Homo sapiens: one gene and its partner. The protein of the gene in region 1 interacts with the protein of each later gene in a biochemical or structural test. Each region holds a gene or a part of one and is shown in the gene's direction. Other genes may lie near its edges.

The links. The genes of interacting proteins can lie anywhere in the genome.
Region 2: of the proteins of CAPN2 (region 1) and PBXIP1, one has a biochemical effect on the other in vitro, tested with the Homo sapiens proteins (one study listed by BioGRID).

Annotation. Positions count from the first base shown.
Region 1 is NC_000001.11:223,750,539-223,754,038, forward strand, and holds part of CAPN2 (calpain-2 catalytic subunit), read left to right. Parts: intron 1-351; coding exon 352-437; intron 438-1,458; coding exon 1,459-1,533; intron 1,534-2,257; coding exon 2,258-2,418; intron 2,419-3,500. UniProt on the Homo sapiens protein: Calcium-regulated non-lysosomal thiol-protease which catalyzes limited proteolysis of substrates involved in cytoskeletal remodeling and signal transduction. Proteolytically cleaves MYOC at 'Arg-226'.
Region 2 is NC_000001.11:154,949,600-154,953,099, reverse strand, and holds part of PBXIP1 (pre-B-cell leukemia transcription factor-interacting protein 1), read left to right. Parts: intron 1-1,178; coding exon 1,179-1,305; intron 1,306-1,564; coding exon 1,565-1,629; intron 1,630-1,702; coding exon 1,703-1,868; intron 1,869-3,500. UniProt on the Homo sapiens protein: Regulator of pre-B-cell leukemia transcription factors (BPXs) function. Inhibits the binding of PBX1-HOX complex to DNA and blocks the transcriptional activity of E2A-PBX1.

The DNA of each region.
Region 1 (3,500 bases):
CAGTGATCTTTCAACAAATGGTAAAGCTTCTCTGAGCTCCTTTACCAAAAGCGCATCCTGTCAGTTAAGCTGAAGTTCAGAGATGAAGCACCAACAGCCCCATCCTCGAGAGCCGGATCCTGGGAGCTTTAAATCTCATTTTCCAAAGCTAGGCAGCAGTGAGAGGTCTGGGTGCCAAGCCCCCTCTAGCTCTTGTGATCCTCCCTCATACATGGACTCAACCCCCAAATCCTCCCCACCGTCCTCAGCCCCATACCTCCTGGCTCATGCGGAAGGGGGTTGGAGGCCCAAGCCTTCATAGCCCTGACTTGAACTCAACCTCTTACTCCTCCCTTTTATCTAATCCTGCAGGTTGAAAGTAACGGAAGCCTACAGAAACTGATCCGCATCCGAAATCCCTGGGGAGAAGTGGAGTGGACAGGGCGGTGGAATGACAAGTGAGGAGGGCGCAGGCCTCGGGGCCCCAGGCGGGGGTGCATTGTGCTGGGAGGCTCTGGGAAGAGGGCGAGAGAAGAAGACATGTGCATTATTCTGAGAAATATAGCCAGGAGAGCCCAGGCCACGTGGACAGGGACCCGTGGACAGGGGCCCCTCAAAGGGTCTTTTAACCAGGACACTCCTCCAGCAGCCTGAGTGCCTTCTTCCAGGCCCCAAGCTGCTCGTGTGAAGTTCATTCCTGCCACTGCCTCCAGGTTCACCCCTTCCCTAGCTCAAATCCACCCTTCTATGGGGCTTTCAGGGAAAAAAATACACCCCACCTTCCCCCAGGCACTTCTATTACAGGGATGTGAACTTTGTACCAAAGGCCAGAGAAACATCCCTCTGTTGATTTCCAGGGCTTACTGGTAGGCATGTTGAACCCTCAACTATTTGGGGTAAACACTTGTTTGTACATCTGCTGTGGCAACCTCAGCCTACTTGCTCTGCCTCAGGTTGGAGAGGTGGGCAGTACAGAGGCCTGTGTGTAATTCCAGCCAAAGCTCAGGCAGTGGTTAGTTTACCCTGTGCACTGCCCCTGTGTACAGGGCCAGGTCCTTCTGCTCCGTGGACAGAGAGACACCTGCTGAGGCTTCCCAGGCCTCAGCCGGAGGCTCCTCATCAGATCTTCAGTTGTCTCTAAAAGAGCTGCCAGGCCCATCTCAATTGGGCAACTGCTCTGAGCTACTCCATCTCCCTCTAATGAACTATGTTCATTTTCTGGACTCTTCCTTGCCACTGTCTTCCAGCACAACTCACCCGCTCACTTTGCTCCCTGGTTTGCATCTGTATAGTGTTCTATACTCTTTAAAGTGCTGTAAGAGTATTAAAATGCAGCTGTTAGCCAGATGTGGGCTACTTTCCCCCTTTCTGGAGCCTGAGCCCTCAGAGGTGAGAGCAGATGTCCCTCTTCCTCAACTCTGGGGCCTTTGGGGAGAAATCATCGTACACTAACGCCTCTCTCTTTACTTTGTTTTCCAGCTGCCCAAGCTGGAACACTATAGACCCAGAGGAGAGGGAAAGGCTGACCAGACGGCATGAAGATGGAGAATTCTGGTAAGATTAGTGGAGGCTTCAGGGAAAGCTCTGTCTGCCCCAATGTTCTTTACTAGAAAACTGCTAATTAGAAAGAGTGTCGGCCAAAGTGAGTTTACCATGTCGAGGACACAAGCGTGTGGGATCCTGGTTTTGTTATTTTAAGTTCACTATAAGAGCCTGAATAAAGAAATTCTTAAGCCCCTTCAACGGTCCATCTTGACAATGGGGTTTATAAGCTGAGCAGCTTCAGAAAAAGGCTAAGAGGAATTCCTTTGGTAATGTTCAGATCCCAGGAAACAAGGGAAAGATGGGGCCTTTCTCCCCCAGGTTCCGGAGACTCATCCCAGCCCCTTAAGAAACTGGTCCCTTAGTGAGCAGCAATGGACCCACATGTCTGTGTGTCTGCGCCACTCTATAACCACCTGCACCTGGACACAACATGCTCTTTATCAAATGGGGCCCATATATTGTCACATTTGATGGGCACGGCTCCCATTTTTGCAGGTGAGAGTTCTGAGCTTCAGAGAAGTTTAAGTAACCTGCTCAAAGTCACCCAGCTAGAAAGTTGCAGCGCCAGGACTGGAATCTGGGCCTTCTGATTCTGAACCTGGTGCCCATCCACTCAGTTCTAATGAGCTGCTCTGCCTGGCTTTGGGTGGCTCCTGGTCTGGTGTTGGTGGAAAGTCAAGGCTTACCAGTGTGTCTTCTTATCACCTGTGATGATTGTCTCTGCTTTTGCCAGGATGTCTTTCAGTGACTTCCTGAGGCACTATTCCCGCCTGGAGATCTGTAACCTGACCCCAGACACTCTCACCAGCGATACCTACAAGAAGTGGAAACTCACCAAAATGGATGGGAACTGGAGGCGGGGCTCCACCGCGGGAGGTTGCAGGAACTACCCGAGTAAGGGCTGTTGCATATAAGGGCTGTTGCAATGCGGGGCCACCAAAGGCCAAAGCTCCCCTTACCCCACCCTGTGTACCACACCCCAGCCTAGCAGCCCCAGGAGGCAGCTCCTGCTCACTGGAACCCTCTCTGTCTTCTTTCTCCCTGAGCCTTTTCTTTTCCCTGAGCCTTTTCTCCCCGAGCTCTCTTTCTCAATCCCTTACCTCCTGCCCTACCCAGGACAAACCCAAGAGCCACTGTTTCTGTGATGTCCTCTCCAGGCCCTAGATTCCCCAGCGCCCATCATGACCTTCAGCCTGACCTTCCGCCATGCTCACGGAAGCAGTGCTCAATCCCACTTCACGGCCATGAGCTGCTCTATGCACCCCACACCCAGGCAGCCGAGCCTACAAGGGAACCTTGTCCCGGCACCCAGGGAGCCCTCCACATATCAGGCCCTGTTTGTTGCCCCATACTCACTTCAATCAGCAAATGTTGACTGGGCGCTGCCCAGATGGGGTGAAGATTTCTCCTCTGGTCCAGCCTTTGTTGAGCCCCTTGATTCTTCTGCCTTCATGGCTTAGTCCGTCAGCAGTTGTCTGAACATGATGACATCTGCCAATTATGGGGCACACCTTCAGTGCTTGGAACTATCCTAAGTGTTTTGTACACAGGGTGAGGATCCATAATCTGAAAATGTGAAATCTGAAATGCTCCAAAATCCAAAACTTTTTCAGCCCCAACATGATACCACAGGTGGAAAATTCGACACTTGACCTCAGGTGACAGGTCGCAGTCAAAACACAGTCAAAACTTTGTTTCATGCACAAAATTATTTTAAATATGCTATAGAATTACCTTCAGCCTATGTGTATAAATTATATATGAAACAGAAATGAGTTTTGTCATTAGACTTGAGTTCCATCCCTAAGATATGTTATGTATATACAAATATTCCAAAATCCAAAAAAATCCAAAATAGGAAACACTTCTGGCCCCAGGAATTTCAGATAAGGGATATTCAGCCTGCATAACATTCTATCTAACCTTCCCAACAAACTTCTGAGGCAGGCACTTTCTTATCACCTCCATCTCTAAGA
Region 2 (3,500 bases), about 69 Mb from region 1:
CAGGTAGCAGCTGGTGGGGCAGAAGCCCACTGAGGAGGGAGAAGGGGGTTGGCAGGATGGGGAACTGAGTGGCTAGAGAAGGGATGGCAAAAATTTGTCAAAGGCATCTCTGAGAGTTCCAAGACGTAGCGACTTTGTATATTAGAGCCACCAGGAGGGGAGGAGGAGAGAAGCTCAGTTTCAACATGTTGAGTTTGAGGTGCCCTTGAGGAACCCAGCTGGGAGTAAGGAGTTGACCTTGGGGATGACGCTGGAGCAAGATAATGGACTGGGGCTCACTGGCAGAGGGAAGGCAGGTATGAGCAGACGGGCACCAGGCTCTCAGAGCCCTGGCCTCCTGTTGAGGTGTCTTTGTTGACAGCTGGGGGACCTTGGGCATGCCATTTCACCTCTCTGTCCTCTCCTGTAAAACGGGCGTCATGATTTTTGCCTTGTAGGGGGGACCATGAGAATAAAAATGTTTTGAAAATAGCAAAGACATAACTAAGGTGAAGCATTACTCTCAGAGGGATAGTTGGAGCCACGGGGCGGGTGGCAGGCCAGGGCCCTATGGAAGGGGAGTAGGCAGAGGGAGGAGGCCGAGGCTGTGTGGCCAGGGCTGGATGTCCAGGCTGAGAGTGCCCTGGAGACAGGCTGTCTGTGGTTGGGGTGGGTTGGGCTTCTGTGAGCAGCTGCTGGGAGACGGGTGTCGGGGGAGTGTCAGGGGCCAGCGGGAAAGGCCAGAAAGGCTTGAGAGATGTAAGTAGTTGTCCAGTTGAGAGGGCAGCTGCAGGGACACCCTGGGAGGCATAACTGTGACCCGTGGGCACCCAGGGGACTTTGTTCTCTTGCCTTCTTCCCACCCTTAATATTATAATATCTGGGTTGTTCATCTGTGGGGAAGGAAGTGCTGCTGATCTTGATGGGAGGGAAACGTAGGCTCTAGCTCACCTTCTGGAGGCGGGGCACCAGGTTTGTACTGCAACCAGTGCCTTGGTCTGGTGGTGCGGCGCTGTGTAGCGGAAACCTGGCCCCTGAAAGTTCCTCCTCGCAGTGAGTGAGGCTGGGGAATGCCGAGCACTTGGTGCTGCCCCGAGCCCCTTTTTGGGCCAGCTCATGACTGAATGTGTGTGTTTCTGGGATGTGGGCTGGGGCCCCATTCTTGGGTGCAGCCCTTCTCCTTGCACTTCTCCTCCCAGAGCCTGCCAGTGGAGACACTGGGCCCGGCATCCAGGATGGACCCAGAATCTGAGAGAGCCCTGCAGGCCCCTCACAGCCCCTCCAAGACAGATGGGAAAGAATTAGCTGGGACCATGGATGGAGAAGGTACTGGGCCCTGCTTAGGACATAGCTTACCGGACAAAGCTATTCTCCATATTTTGGGGTTTCTCAGTTTCCTCAGAGAAAGGGAGGCTGGTTCGTTTTAGTTCCTCCATTAATCTCAGTTGACAAACTCCTTTTCTCATTCCATCCTGGCTTTTTCCTGCCTCTTCCAACCTGGTAGGGGCCCGTGGGATGGACAGAGGGCTGCAAAGGAAATTCAGCTGGGGCAGTGGGTTTTTCTGCGCCTTTTCTCCTACCGCAGGGACGCTCTTCCAGACTGAAAGCCCTCAGTCTGGCAGCATTCTAACAGAGGAGACTGAGGTCAAGGTGAGGAGATTTGCTGTGGGAAGGAAGGGAGGCGGGGAGGGCTAGCAGCTGCTCACTGCTGCATCTGCATTAGGGCACCCTGGAAGGTGATGTTTGTGGTGTGGAGCCTCCTGGCCCAGGAGACACAGTAGTCCAGGGAGACCTGCAGGAGACCACCGTGGTGACAGGCCTGGGACCAGACACACAGGACCTGGAAGGCCAGAGCCCTCCACAGAGCCTGCCTTCAACCCCCAAAGCAGGTGAGAGTCTTCCTTGCCTCTCCTGTCACTCTCCTTCTAGAAGGTATGGGAGAGGGATCAGCCATCACTACTGAGCACATGCTGTGGTCCAGGCCCTAGGGCTGAGCAGCTTGGTGCTCTCCTTTCTCACCACTACCCCTGGGACGTTGAGGCCCAGAAAGGTTGAATGACTTGACCAAGGTCACACTGCTGGTAAGGGGCAGGGCCCACATCTGGTTGACTCTTTCCTCTCTGCCATGGGGACCTCCTCTTTTCTTGCTTCCAGAATTCAACCCTCATTTCTGGAGTCCCTTCCTTGTGCTGGCCCTGGGCCTGGGCAGAGGGAAGATGGTTGGTTACCGCCTATGTAAGCGGCAGATCAGACTGAGCCAAGGTGCATATCAGACCTAAGAGTGGTACAGAACTGTAATTAAGGTACTCCCAAAGGAAGGAGAGGCCATTCAGTCAGGGGACTGGTTGAGGGCAAGGGAGAGGCTGGGACAGTGAGAGGTGACATTTGAGTGGAGCCCTGAGCACAGAGTAGGCTTTTGGTACGTAGGGCAGGGAAAAGAGAATGTTTTAGGCCAAGGCTGCAGCATCAGCAAAGGAGTGGGGACCACCTGTCTTGTGCTAAGGAGCTCTGTTCCAGGCTTGTGGCAGAGGAGTGTAGGAATTGGTCCCTGTTGAGTGACAGGATGGAGGGCCTGGGGGCCATTTAGGAGGCAACTGCAGTGGTCAGGCAAAGATGATGCAGACCTGGGCCAGGCATGGTGGCTCGTGCCTATAATCCCAGCACTTTGGGAGGCTGAGGTAGGAGGATTGCTTGAGCCCAGGAATTCAAGACTGCAGTGAGCCATGGTCATCCCACTTCACTCTAGCCTGGGCAACAGAGGGAGACCCTGTCTCTAAAGGAAATAAAAATAGGCGGCAGGGTGCAGTGGCTCACGCCTGTAGTCCCAGCACTTTGAGAGGCCAAGGTGGGTGGATCACCTGAGGTCAGAAGTTTGAGACCAGCCTGGGCAACATGGTGAAACCCCGTCTCTATTAAAAATACAAAAATTAGCTCGGTGTGGTGGTGCACGCCTGTAGTCCCAGCTACTTCCCAGCTACCTGGGAAGCTGAGGCAGGAGAATCGCTTGAACCTGGGAGGCGGAGGTTGCAGTGAGCCAAGATTGTGCCACTGCACTCCAGCCTGGGTTACAGAGGTAGACTCTGCCTCAAAAAATAAAAATAAATAAAATAAAATAAAATAAAATAAAATAAATAAAAATAAAAATAGGCTGGGTGTGGTGGCTCACACCTGTAATCCTCACACTTTGGGAGGCACAGGCAGGAGGGGCTGGGCTAGGGTAACCCACCTAGGCCAGGCGTCTGTCCTAGCATCCTCCCCCAAAAGGAATGTTTCCTATTTACCCACACATCCTGACCCTCCCCTCTCCCACTATAGTCAGGGCGTCTTCCCAGTTCTTGGTTCACATCCCTTGTGCTAAGGTTTGGGCCAGGGCTGGCATACCTGTTCCACATGGTACATGAAACATACATGGTATCACCTGTGATTGATTGGTGTGGTCTGCCTGGAGCACTGTGTGGAAAAGGATTTAAAGAACATGCCAGGTGCCATGATCAGTTAACACTGTTCCAGGTATGGGAGGT